Linked DNA regions of Homo sapiens. The protein of the gene in region 2 interacts with the protein of the main gene of each other region in a pairwise test. Each region holds a gene or a part of one and is shown on either strand. Other genes may lie near its edges.

Region 1 (3,649 bases), on a different chromosome or scaffold from region 2:
ATATTTTCTGATTAGGTGCAAAGCAGTGTGTTATAGGCGTGTCAAGAGCCTCAAGTGGCCAAGTGCAGTGGCTCACGCCTGTCATCCTAGCACTTTAGGTGTCTGAAGTGGGAGGGCCCTTGAGCCAAGGAGTTTGAGACCAGCCTGGGCCACATAAGGAGACCTCACCTCTATTACATTTTTTTTTCTTCTGAGACGGAGTTTCACTCTTGTTGTCCAGGCTGGAGTGCAGTGGCGTAATCTCGGCTCACTGCAACCTCCACCTCCCGGGTTCAAGTGATTCTCCTGCCTCAGCCTTCCGAGTAGCTGGGATTACAGGCATGCGCCACCACGCCCGGCTAGTTTTGTATTTTTAGTAGAGATGGGGTTTCGTCATGATGGCCAGGCTGGTCTTGAACTCCTGACCTCAGGTGATCTGCCGGCTTTGGCCTCCCAAAGTGCTGGGATTACAGGCGTGAGCCACTGCACCCGGCTAAAAATAAATTTTTTTCAATAAAAAATAAATAAATAAATTAAATAAATAAATAAATAGCGAGCCTTAAGGGGAGACAGACGTGTAACTGAACTGCACAGTGGGAACAGGCCACTTCCTGGGGATGTCATGACGCTGACTTTTTTCAGATCCACATTGACATGAGTCTGCCCAAATATTACTAGTCCTATTTTAATTCATATATATATGTATATATATATATTTTTTTTTTAGATAGAGCTTCACTCTTGTTTCCTGGGCTGGAGTGCAATGGCACGATCTCTGCTCACTGCAACTTCTGCCTCCTGGGCTCAAGCGATTCTGCTGCCTCAGCCACCCGAGTAGCTGGGATTACAGGTGCCTGCCACCACGTCCAGCAATTTTTTTGTATTTTTTAATAGAGACACGGTTTCACCATGTTGACCAGGCTTATCTCAAACTCCTGACATCAGGCGATCCACCTGCCTTGGCCTCCCAAAGTGCTGGGATTACAGGTGTAAGTCACCGTGCCCGGCCTTAATTCATATTTTTCTAAAAAACAAGAAGTTCACATATCAATGAAAATATAAAAGAGAGGAACATAAGGAGTGGAAGAGGCATTTTATAATTTATCTAGATATGACATTTTAATTGTAATTAGCTTTATTGATATATAGTTAAAATTCAATAAAATTCACCTATTTTAAGTGCAAAGTTTAATGAGTTTTGTCAATATGTACAGTTATGTATTCACCACCAGAATCTAGACACAGAATGCTTCCACCCCTTCAGAAAGCTTCCCATGCCCCATACTAATCCTCTTTCCCATTCTCAGCCCATGGCAACCGCTCATCTGCTCTCCGTTAAAAGTTTTGCCTTTTCTAGAATTTCGTATATATAGAAACATGTGAGTAGTCTTTTGTTTCTGGCTTCTTCCACTTAACACAATGCTTTTGAGATTCATCCATGTTATATGTAGCAGAAATTTACGCATTTTATTACCTAATAGAACTCATTTGTATGGATAACACAATTTGTCTTGATTCACCTATTGATTACTGATAAGGATTTGAGTAATCACAAATTTTTTAATTGATTTTTTATTGTGGTAAAGTAACATCAGATTTGTCATTTTAACCATTTTAAAGTGTATAATTCAGTGACATTAATTACATTTGCAATGATGTGCAACCATTACCATTATCTATTTCCAAAACTTTTCTTCACCCCAAACAGAAAGTCTGTAACCCTTAAACCGTGGGCAGTGGCCCAGATCTGGTCATAGCTACTCTGGAGGCACGGGCTGGAGGATCATTTGAGTCCAGGAGTTGAAGACCAGCTGGGGTAACATAGTGAGACTGCATCTCTAAAAAAACCCCAAAACCACCGCGCGCGGTGGGAGGCCGAGGCGGGCAGATCACCTGAGGTCAGGAGTTCAAGACCAGCCTGGCCAACATAGTGAAACCCTGTCTCTACTAAAAATACAAAAATTAGCCAGGCGTGGTGGCACATGCCTGTAGTCCCAGCTACTTGGGAGGCTGAGGCAGGAGAATTGCTTGAGCCCAGGAGGCAGAGGTTGCAGTGAGCTGAGATTGCGCCACTGCACTCCAGCCTGGCTGACAGAGCAAGACTCTGTCTCAAAAAAAAAAAACAAAACAACACAAAACAAAACCTGAAAACCTCTGTAACCATTAAACAATAACTCCCCATTCTCTCCTCCCTCCCCACAGTCCCTGATAACCTCCAGTCTACTTTCTTTCTCTATAAAGTTGTTATTTTGAATATTTCATATAAGTGGAATCATACAATATTTGTCCTTTAGTGTCTGGCTTATTTCTTTTAGCATGATTTTTTTTTTTTAGATGGAGTCGCTTGCTCTTGTCGCCCAGGCTGAAGTGCAGTGGCGCGATCTCAGCTCACTGCAGCCTCTGCCTCCTGGGTTCAAGCGATTTTCCTGCCTCAACCTCCGAGTAGCTGGGATTATAGGCAAGCACCCAGCTGACATTTAAATTTTTAAGCAGTCTGATTAATCATGTTTTGTGGATTGTACTTTTTGCATTTTAGTAAGAAACCTTTATCTAACCCAAGGTCCCAGTGTTTTTCTCCTTTGTTTTATTCTAGAAATTTTATAAAGCTTTTAGACCCATGCTCCATTTCAAGTGAATTTTTGAATATGTTGTGAAGTAATAGTGAAGGCAGTTTTGTTTTGCATGTGCATTGTTCCGGCACCATTTGTGGAAGAGACTTTTTCCCGCTGAATTGTCATCTTCTTAAAAAATCATTTATTGGCCGGGCGCGGTGGCTCATGCCTGTAATCCCAGCACTTTGGGAGCCCGAGACAGGCGGATCACGAGGTCAGGAGATCAAGACCGTCCTGGCTAACACGGTGAAACCCCGTCTCTACTAAAAATACAAAAAATTACCGGGCATGGTGGCGGGCACCTGTAATCCCAGCTACTTGGGAGGCTGAGGCAGGAGAATCGCTTGAACCTGGGAGGCAGAGGTTGCAGTGAGCTGAGATCGCGCCACTGCACTCCAGCCTGAGCAACAGAGCGAGACTCCGTCTCAAGAAAAAAAAAAAATCATTTTTCCTGGACCGGGTCTGTTTCTGAGCTCCAGCCTGTTCCAGTAGTCCATATGTGTTTCCTTACGCGTGGCTTCAGTGTCTTCAATTACTGTAGCTTTGTAAGTCTTGAAATCACATGGCGTAAGTTCTCCAGCTTTGTTTGTTTTTCAGAATTGCTTTGGCTAATCTTCACAATTGCTTTGCATTTCCATATAAATTTAGATTCAGTTTGTCAATTTCTATAACAAAACTCTCCTAGGATTTTGACTGATATTGCTTTAAATCTTTGCATCAATTTAGGGAGAACATGTTAACTATTTTGAGTCTTCTGGTTCAGGAACATGGTATATGTCTCCATTTATTTAGGTCTCCATTAATTTTCTCAGCAATGCTTTGCAATTCTTACTATATAGGTCTTGCAAATATTTTGTTAAATTCATCCATATGTATTATATTTTTATGCTATTGTAAATGATATATTTTAATTTCAATCCTCAATTTGTCATTGCTTGTATATAGAAATACAATATAATTTTTGTATATTAATCTTTTATTCTATGACGTTGCTAAACTCACCTGTTAATTCTAATAAACTTTAGGATTTTCTACATAATGTGATCACATTATCTGTG
Region 2 (3,649 bases):
CCAGAAAATGGCATCTTGCTTTTGACTTTCTTTGTGCTGATTCTTTTAGAGAACTTAGTGATCCACTTTGCAATGTCTCGTCTCCTAACATTTCAGCTTGTTTCTCAGAGGGCCTGTACTTTGCTTTCTACCAGCTCTTTCATCATTTTCATTTTCTTTAATGAAAAATAAGCAAAACTGTATGATTTCTAGGTTGTCTTCTTCTCCTAAAGGATATTCTTCTTCCGGCCTCTCTTAATCTCTCTTCTCAGCAACTCCCTTGATCTCTTTTATCATCAATTTATTGTCAATAAAAGTGGCTTTAGGAAGCCTCCTGTTACCTGGCAGGGTTCCAGCTTTCTGACACTTTCCTATGGGACCCACTTGTTATGTCATCCCTGTGTCCTTCTGGCACTCCCTCTTAGCTGGGGAGGGTCAGTCCCCAGGGTGAGAGTCGGTTGGGATGGCCCATTATCAGGCCTTTAGGAGTTTATAGTCTTGTACTTCCCCTTCGAAGACTGAGCTTTAGAGACATTTGGATCTAAAGGCAGCCATTTGATGCTGACTCTTTGGGTTTGCAAAGTAGTCATTTGAGGTTTTTAAAATGTAATTTCCTCTGTGCTCTTTGCAATCGTTCACTTTTCAGTAATTCAATAATATTTACAGAGGACCTACTTTGTGCCATACCTGGTCGCTGTTATCCTGGAGCTTATAGTCTAATGGCAAAGAAAGATGAGTTAATCAAGTAATCACACCAAAACACTTTCAATTCAGCCATGAAACTGTACAATTTCAGCCATGAAACAATGTAAAGGAGAGGCACATGGGGCTATGAAATCATACAATGCAAAGGACTGGTGTACTCTCAGGTAAGTGGTTCTCAAAGTGTGGTCCCTGGACCGGCATCTCAACATCTCCTGTGAACTTGTTAGAAACACAGATTCTCCATCCCTTAACTCCAGGGTTTGGGGGGAAGGTGTCCAGCATTTGTGTTTTAACCTGTCCCCAAGAGACTGTGATGCATGCTCAAGTCTGAGAACCTCTGCTCCAGGTGATCAAAGAAGGCTTCTCTGAAGACATTAAATTTTGGTTGATGAAGGAAACTAGGGAATAGGGTGGGGTAGAAGTATTTCAGACAGAAAGAATGGCATGTGTAAAAGCCCTGTGGTCTCACTCCTGTAAATCCCAGCACTTTGGGAGGCCGAGGCGGGTGGATCGTGAGATCAAGAGATTGACACCATCCTGGCCAACATAGTGAAACCCCGTCTCTATTAAAAATACAAAAAAAATTAGCTGGGCATGGTGGTGCGCTCCTGTAGTCCCAGCTACTCAGGAGGCTAAGGCTGGAGAATCGCTTGAACCCGGAAGACAGAGGTTGCAGTAAGCCGAGATCGTGCCACTGCTCTCTAGGCTGGTGACAGAGTGAGACTCTGTCTCAAAAAAAAAAAAAAAAAGCCCTGTGGTGAGAGCAGGAGAGCAGGGAGCTTTTGAAAACATGAGGGAGTACCCCAAGCAAGGAGAAGAGTGATACAAGGTGAGTCTGACAGGTCTGGACAGGGACCATGATGTGCAGGTCATGAAGGCCTCATCAGGGATTGGGCAACGGGAAGCTTTTGATGTGCAGTAAACACGGGAGTGACAATATATTATTTGCTTTTATTGAAAGGATAATTCTAGCTACAGTATGGAGAAAGGATGGAAGAAGAGCAAGAGTCGAGCACTGGGAGGGCCTCACTGGGGTCTTGGGGAGGATGATGGTAACTTGGACTAGGGTGGCTTCTGAGGAATGGAAAGAAGGGTGCATAATCACAAGATTCCCAGGTAAAATCCACAGGTCTTGGTTATCAATTGGAGGTGTCAGGAAGGACTGTGGTGTTTTGAGTCTACATCCAAGATGGAAGATAATGATGCCAGTTTTAGCAGTGGGACGAGATCATGAGAAGGTCCTGTTGAGTCCGAGGTACCTCTGAGCCACCCAGCTGTAGATATCAACTAGATAGTGGAAGGTGTGCTGGAGCTCAGAGAAGTCAGGGCTGGAGATACACATTTGTGCATCATCAACAGCTAGGTGGCAATTCAAACTGTGGGCTGGGAGGCATTGCCTAAGAAGAAAGAACGTAAGGAGAAGAAAGCCAGTGACGTTCATTGCAGAATGTCAGCGCTTATGTTTAATGGTCAAGTGGATTGTTTCCTCTAAAACAAGTTTAGAGGAAAGATCCAAGAGAAGGAGGAAAATTAGAACCTAGAAGACCATGGTTTCACAGAGGCCAAGGGAAGAGAGTTTCAAGCAGGAAGTGCCCAGCGGGGGTGAGCAGGGGGTAAGGCAAAAGAAGGTGGAAGAATGCCTGTTACACTAAGCGACTCAAAAGTCATTTGTGACTTTAGCAAAAGATATTCAATGGAGGGAAGAGAGCAGAAGATAAAATGAGGTGGACTGACATGAGAATAGCAGGTAAGAGAGTGCAGAAAGTGAGCATAGACAGCTCTTTAGAAATGGTTGTGAAGAGGAAGAGAGGGCCCTGTGGATGGAGATGTGGAGTCAGGCAGATAGCTCTGGTGTATTTGATTTTTCAGTGGGAGTGCTCCTAGCATGTTAAAGCCTAAAGACTTTGTTGAAAGGGGTGCTGAAAAAAGAGAAATGGTATCATCTAAGGTTACCAAGGGCCAGGATCCTTGACACAGGTAGGAGGATGCAGAGGCTTCGTGGGTCTGGTAGCTCCTGCTCTCCCCTGGACTTTTCTGAACCTCTGGGACCTGCCCACGCCCTGATCGCCTGCCCTGGAACGCCTGCTGTCCCTCCCTTTCTTGGCATCTCTCCTCCCCGCTGTCTCGCCTGCCCACAGTTCCTCTCCTGCAGCCTGTTCTGCTGTTTTCTCAGCTTTGTTCACCCACTGTTAAGTTATTAACTTGTCAGGGTCTAGACTCCCCGCTTCCTTTCCCTCTTTTGAACTCACTGCTGGCTCCCTTCCCATTTGCCGCCTCAGAAAGTCAGCATTTGGAAGGCTGAGGTTACTCTGCAGGTCAGTATTGGCAGGTACACAGAATTACAGTTAATATAATTAGAATGTGTAAGTTTTCTTAAAGACAATGATACAACTGAAAAAGAAATAATAAACACAGTCATCTCTCTGTTATCTTGTGGAGGTAAATGGTGAACTTAAAAAAATAGACTTTATTCAAAGTAGTGTCTCCAAGAAGGTTCATCTGTGAACATGTTAAGGATCGCTGGACTCTTATATGTTAATTCATGGATTCAATTATGATCAGGAATGATCCTCAGTTTTTAAAGCAAACTCAAAGAACTAGGTAAGTTGTTTTAATATCAGTGTCGCTGTTCTGAGACGTGCAAACTTTATCTTAGATTCTTTCTATTATTTTTATTTATTTATTTTTTTTGAGACGGAGTCTTGCTCTGTCACCCAGGCTGGAGTGCAGTGGCGCAATCTCGGCTCACTGCAACCTCCACCTCCCAGGTTCAAGCGATTCTCCTGCCTCAGCCTCCCAAGTAGCTGGCACTACCACACCCAGCTAATTTTTGTATTTTTAGTGGAGACGGGATTTCACCATGTTGGCCAGGATGGTCTCAATCTCTTGACCTCATGATCTGCCCACCTTGGCCTCCCAAAGTGCTGAGATTACAGGCATGAGCCACCGCACCTGGACTGTCTTA
Region 3 (3,649 bases), on a different chromosome or scaffold from region 2:
CCCTTGTTTCAGGATTCCCTGCAGAGAAGTTTGCAGATGACCACATCCTGTTGTTTATTTGGTGGAAAACTGAAATCGAAAGCTAGCTAAATGCTGAACAATGGGAACTAGTTGGCTAAAAAATGGCCGTGCAATGCAAGAGTGTGAGGTTACGAAAATGATGATGTGGGCGCGTATCCATTGACACAAACATCCATGTGTGCTACGCCCTCAGTTAAAAAGCAGGTTAGAAAATGGAATAAATGATCCTGCTTCTATAAAAGGATGCATATGTGTTTTAGGAAGAAGGTGTGTGAGGATATAGATCAAATTCTGATGGCCTGTCATTTTACCTTTTTTGCTGATCCATATTCTACTGCAGTGCGTGTGGATTATTAGCACACACACACACCCTTTTTTTTTTAATTAAAAAAAATTTTTTTTGAGACAGAGTCTCATTCTGTCACCCAGGCTGGAATGCAGTGGTGCGATCTTGGCCCACTGCAAACTCTGCCTCCTGAGCTCAAGGGATTCTAGTGCCTCAGCCTCCCAAGTAGCTGGGATTACAGGTGTGAGCCACCATGCCCGGCTAATTTTTATATTTTTAGTAGAGATAGGGTTTCACCATGTTGTGGCTGGTCTTGAACTCCTGGCCTCAGGTGATCCACTCGCCTTGGCCTCCCCAGGTGCTGGGATTATAGGTGTGAGCCATCGCACCCGGCCCACACACACACCCCCCCTTTAATGGTGGAGTTGCCAACAGTTGTCCGATGTGGCAGAGAGAACTGGGGAGCAGAGAAGGAGCCCATCACTGGGAGGGACTGAAAACCAGCTCCTGGGCACTGCAGGGCAGAGCGTGTGCCGGGTGTGAAGGGGGTCAGTGCCCCTGTGCTGGCCACTGTCCCCCTAGTTCTGATACAGTTGCTGCCAGGAGAGGCTGGACCGTGGCAAGGGGCCAGTGGGGAACCGGGGCGGGATGGGGGGCAGCAGCAGTGCTCTGGGGTCTGCTTGTGGTGGCCATGGTGGTGGCAGTTGCAGTGGCAACTGTGGGCCATGGCAGCACTTTTCCGTGGCGCACAGGCCGCTGCCGGGTGAGGGGAGAGCCCCGCTTGTTCTCCTCCTGCCGCCTCTCCTCCCATCCCCAGCTGCTGGGTGCTCTCCGGCCGGCATGAAGCTGTGCAGGCACTGGGCACTCCCTTGGGCTCTTAGCGGGGCCTTCTCATTGCTGCTTCGCTAGGAACCACCCGCTCTCCTTTCCTCCTGGAGGGCCACGTGGGGCCGAGCACCTGGGACAGCCGTGCTGAGCTCTACCCGGCCCCTTCGCAGGCCTCGTTTCTGGGGGCCTTCAGTTTTGGAAACCTCCCTGAGGGCCCCTCTAGAGTGCGGGTCCGCCCCGCCCCTGGTGTGGAGGGGAAGTGCCCTGTCCCTGTGTGCTGACAGGTCCCTGTGTGCAGCATGGTCGGGGCACTTCTACTCTGCAGGCGCGGCCGGGCGGGGAGCGGGGTGGGGGGCGGGCGGGGGCGTGGGGGGAGCGGGGCTGGCTCTCCTGGGTGTGGGGTGGGGAGGCCTCCTCATCGCCAGCATGGAGTTAAAAACCAGGATGGGGGAGGGAGACTTCCCATTTCTCCCGAGATGTACTTCATGACGCGTCTGGAGAAAAGGTGTGACCAGCCCCTTCCTTCCCGTCAAGGAGCGCGCTTGCCTGTGTAACTCACCTGTAAAGCCCACCCAGGGAAGGCCAGGGCCTCATGAAACAGAAAACAAAGCCGGGCACTGGGCCCTTGAGCTCACTAGAATTTGGGGTATCTTTCCTTGCACCCTCACCGCATATGGAACTCCTGGCGTCGTGTCCCAGGTCACGCCTGTCCCCGTGGGGAGGCTGGGCCCCTCCCCCCAGCCACTCCCGAGACTTGAGACCTCTGCCTCAGGACGATGGGTGGGAAGGGGCTTGCGGGTAGGAGAGCGAGCGCTGCTTCCAGCGGGAGCCTCGGGGGAGGGTGGCGGGGCCGCCGTGGGAGGAGCCGCGCCGCATCTCAGGCGCAGTCTCTAGGGGCTGTGCGCATCCGTGGGGGGGACATGCGCATCTCAGGGGGGCTGCTCGCATCTGGGGGTGCTGTGTGCATCTCGGGGGGGCTGTGCCCATCTAGCGGGGTGGCTGTGCGCATCTGGAGGGGGCTGTGCGCAACCCGGGGGGGGTGTTGCGCGCATCTAGCAGGGGCGGCTGTGCGCATTTCGGGGGGGGCTGTGCATATCTGGGGGGACCGTGCTTATCTCCGGGGGCGGCTGTGCGCATCTTGAGGGGTGTGTACATCTCGGGGGGCCTGTGCGCATCTTGGGGGGCTGTGTGCATCCGCGGGGGCTGTGCGCATCTCGGGGTGCTGTGCGCTGCTCCTCTGAGCTCTGCTCTTTCTTGCAGCGTTTGCCTCAGCATGGAGGGCGGGGCCGCGGCAGCCACCCCCACAGCACTGCCTTACTACGTGGCCTTCTCCCAGCTGCTGGGCCTGACCTTGGTGGCCATGACCGGCGCGTGGCTCGGGCTGTACCGAGGCGGCATTGCCTGGGAGAGCGACCTGCAGTTCAACGCGCACCCCCTCTGCATGGTCATAGGCCTGATCTTCCTGCAGGGAAATGGTGAGTCCCATGGGCCGCTCCTCTTTTCCCGGGCTTGTGGGGGTCCCTGAGAGGCAGTTTGCAGGGGTCTTGTCACCCCTGCGGTCTCTTCTGGTTGGACAAATCTAAGATTCTAGAAAAGACAGAGACAGAAGCTGGTTCAGAGCCTGGGGAGATGGAATCCAAACCCAGGCTCTGAGGTTGGTGAGTGGCAGCTCCTCTCCAGCCTGGTCCAGCATTTTCACCTCGTTTCCACACACAGCATCCAAGGCGGGCACTTCTTGCAGCAGAGGGAAAGGAATGAGGCTCCGAGCCAGGCCCTGCTGCAGGGGTGGTTTGAATTGAGGGAAAAAAAGTAATCATATGTGAGAGTTTGTATGCGTGCGTGCGTGCGCGCGCATGTGTGTTGTTGGTCTTGGACTTGGCAGAGCTAGAGCGCCTCCCCCTGGGGCAGGAGCAAGGCAGTGCTTGGCCTCCACCTGCCTCCAGGCCAGGGATCCAGGAAGCGGGATCTGCATCCGGTTGACCCGCTCTTCCTAGAGGTGGTCCTGGTGACAGCCATTCCTGAGCAGCAGAAAGCTAAGAGGCATTCCTCACGTGACCTGGCCTTGCCCACCTCTTCTGGACGCGGGAGATCAGGCTGGGATCACAAGGTTCTGCTTGGGAGCCAGGCGCCTGCTTGCTAGGAGTAGGACCATCTGCCCAGGCTTAGGTGGGGGCCTGTGTGAGGAGCCACGTGGCTAACAGGTGAACTCAGAGGCTGCTTGTTGCCTCAGTGTGACCAACAGTGGACCTCAAACACAGCCTGGAATTTGCAGGACACCTGACAAGAAGGTGGGTGGAGGGGGGCGTCTGCTGGGCCGGGCAGCTCCTTTAGGTGGGGACGAGGGCAGAGGCGCTGCCTTCACTGCCTGTCCTGGTGGTGGGGACTGTGGTGCAGCCTCCGGCCCTGCCCTCTTTGTGCACAGCTGGGGGAGGTTGGAGGGTGGGGGAGGGGTGTTAAGGTGCACACAGCCCTAGGTGCCCTCAGAGAAGGCCAGGAGCTGCCCAGGGTCCCCAG

The links.
Region 1: the proteins of SERP2 (region 2) and TM4SF19 interact in binary tests that used the Homo sapiens proteins (3 or more experiments, as listed by UniProt).
Region 3: the proteins of SERP2 (region 2) and CYB561 interact in binary tests that used the Homo sapiens proteins (3 or more experiments, as listed by UniProt).

Annotation. Positions count from the first base shown.
Region 1 is NC_000003.12:196,328,331-196,331,979, reverse strand, and holds part of TM4SF19 (transmembrane 4 L6 family member 19), read left to right. Parts: intron 1-3,649. UniProt on the Homo sapiens protein: Negatively regulates vacuolar (H+)-ATPase (V-ATPase) activity by interacting with members of V-ATPase V0 complex and hence inhibiting V1-V0 complex assembly. Required for multinucleation during osteoclast differentiation.
Region 2 is NC_000013.11:44,390,781-44,394,429, forward strand, and holds part of SERP2 (stress-associated endoplasmic reticulum protein 2), read left to right. Parts: intron 1-645; exon of another isoform or gene 646-3,407; intron 3,408-3,649. UniProt on the Homo sapiens protein: Interacts with target proteins during their translocation into the lumen of the endoplasmic reticulum. Protects unfolded target proteins against degradation during ER stress. May facilitate glycosylation of target proteins after termination of ER stress.
Region 3 is NC_000017.11:63,436,307-63,439,955, reverse strand, and holds part of CYB561 (transmembrane ascorbate-dependent reductase CYB561), read left to right. Parts: intron 1-2,395; coding exon of another isoform or gene 2,396-2,408; coding exon 2,409-2,610; intron 2,611-3,649. UniProt on the Homo sapiens protein: Transmembrane reductase that uses ascorbate as an electron donor in the cytoplasm and transfers electrons across membranes to reduce monodehydro-L-ascorbate radical in the lumen of secretory vesicles.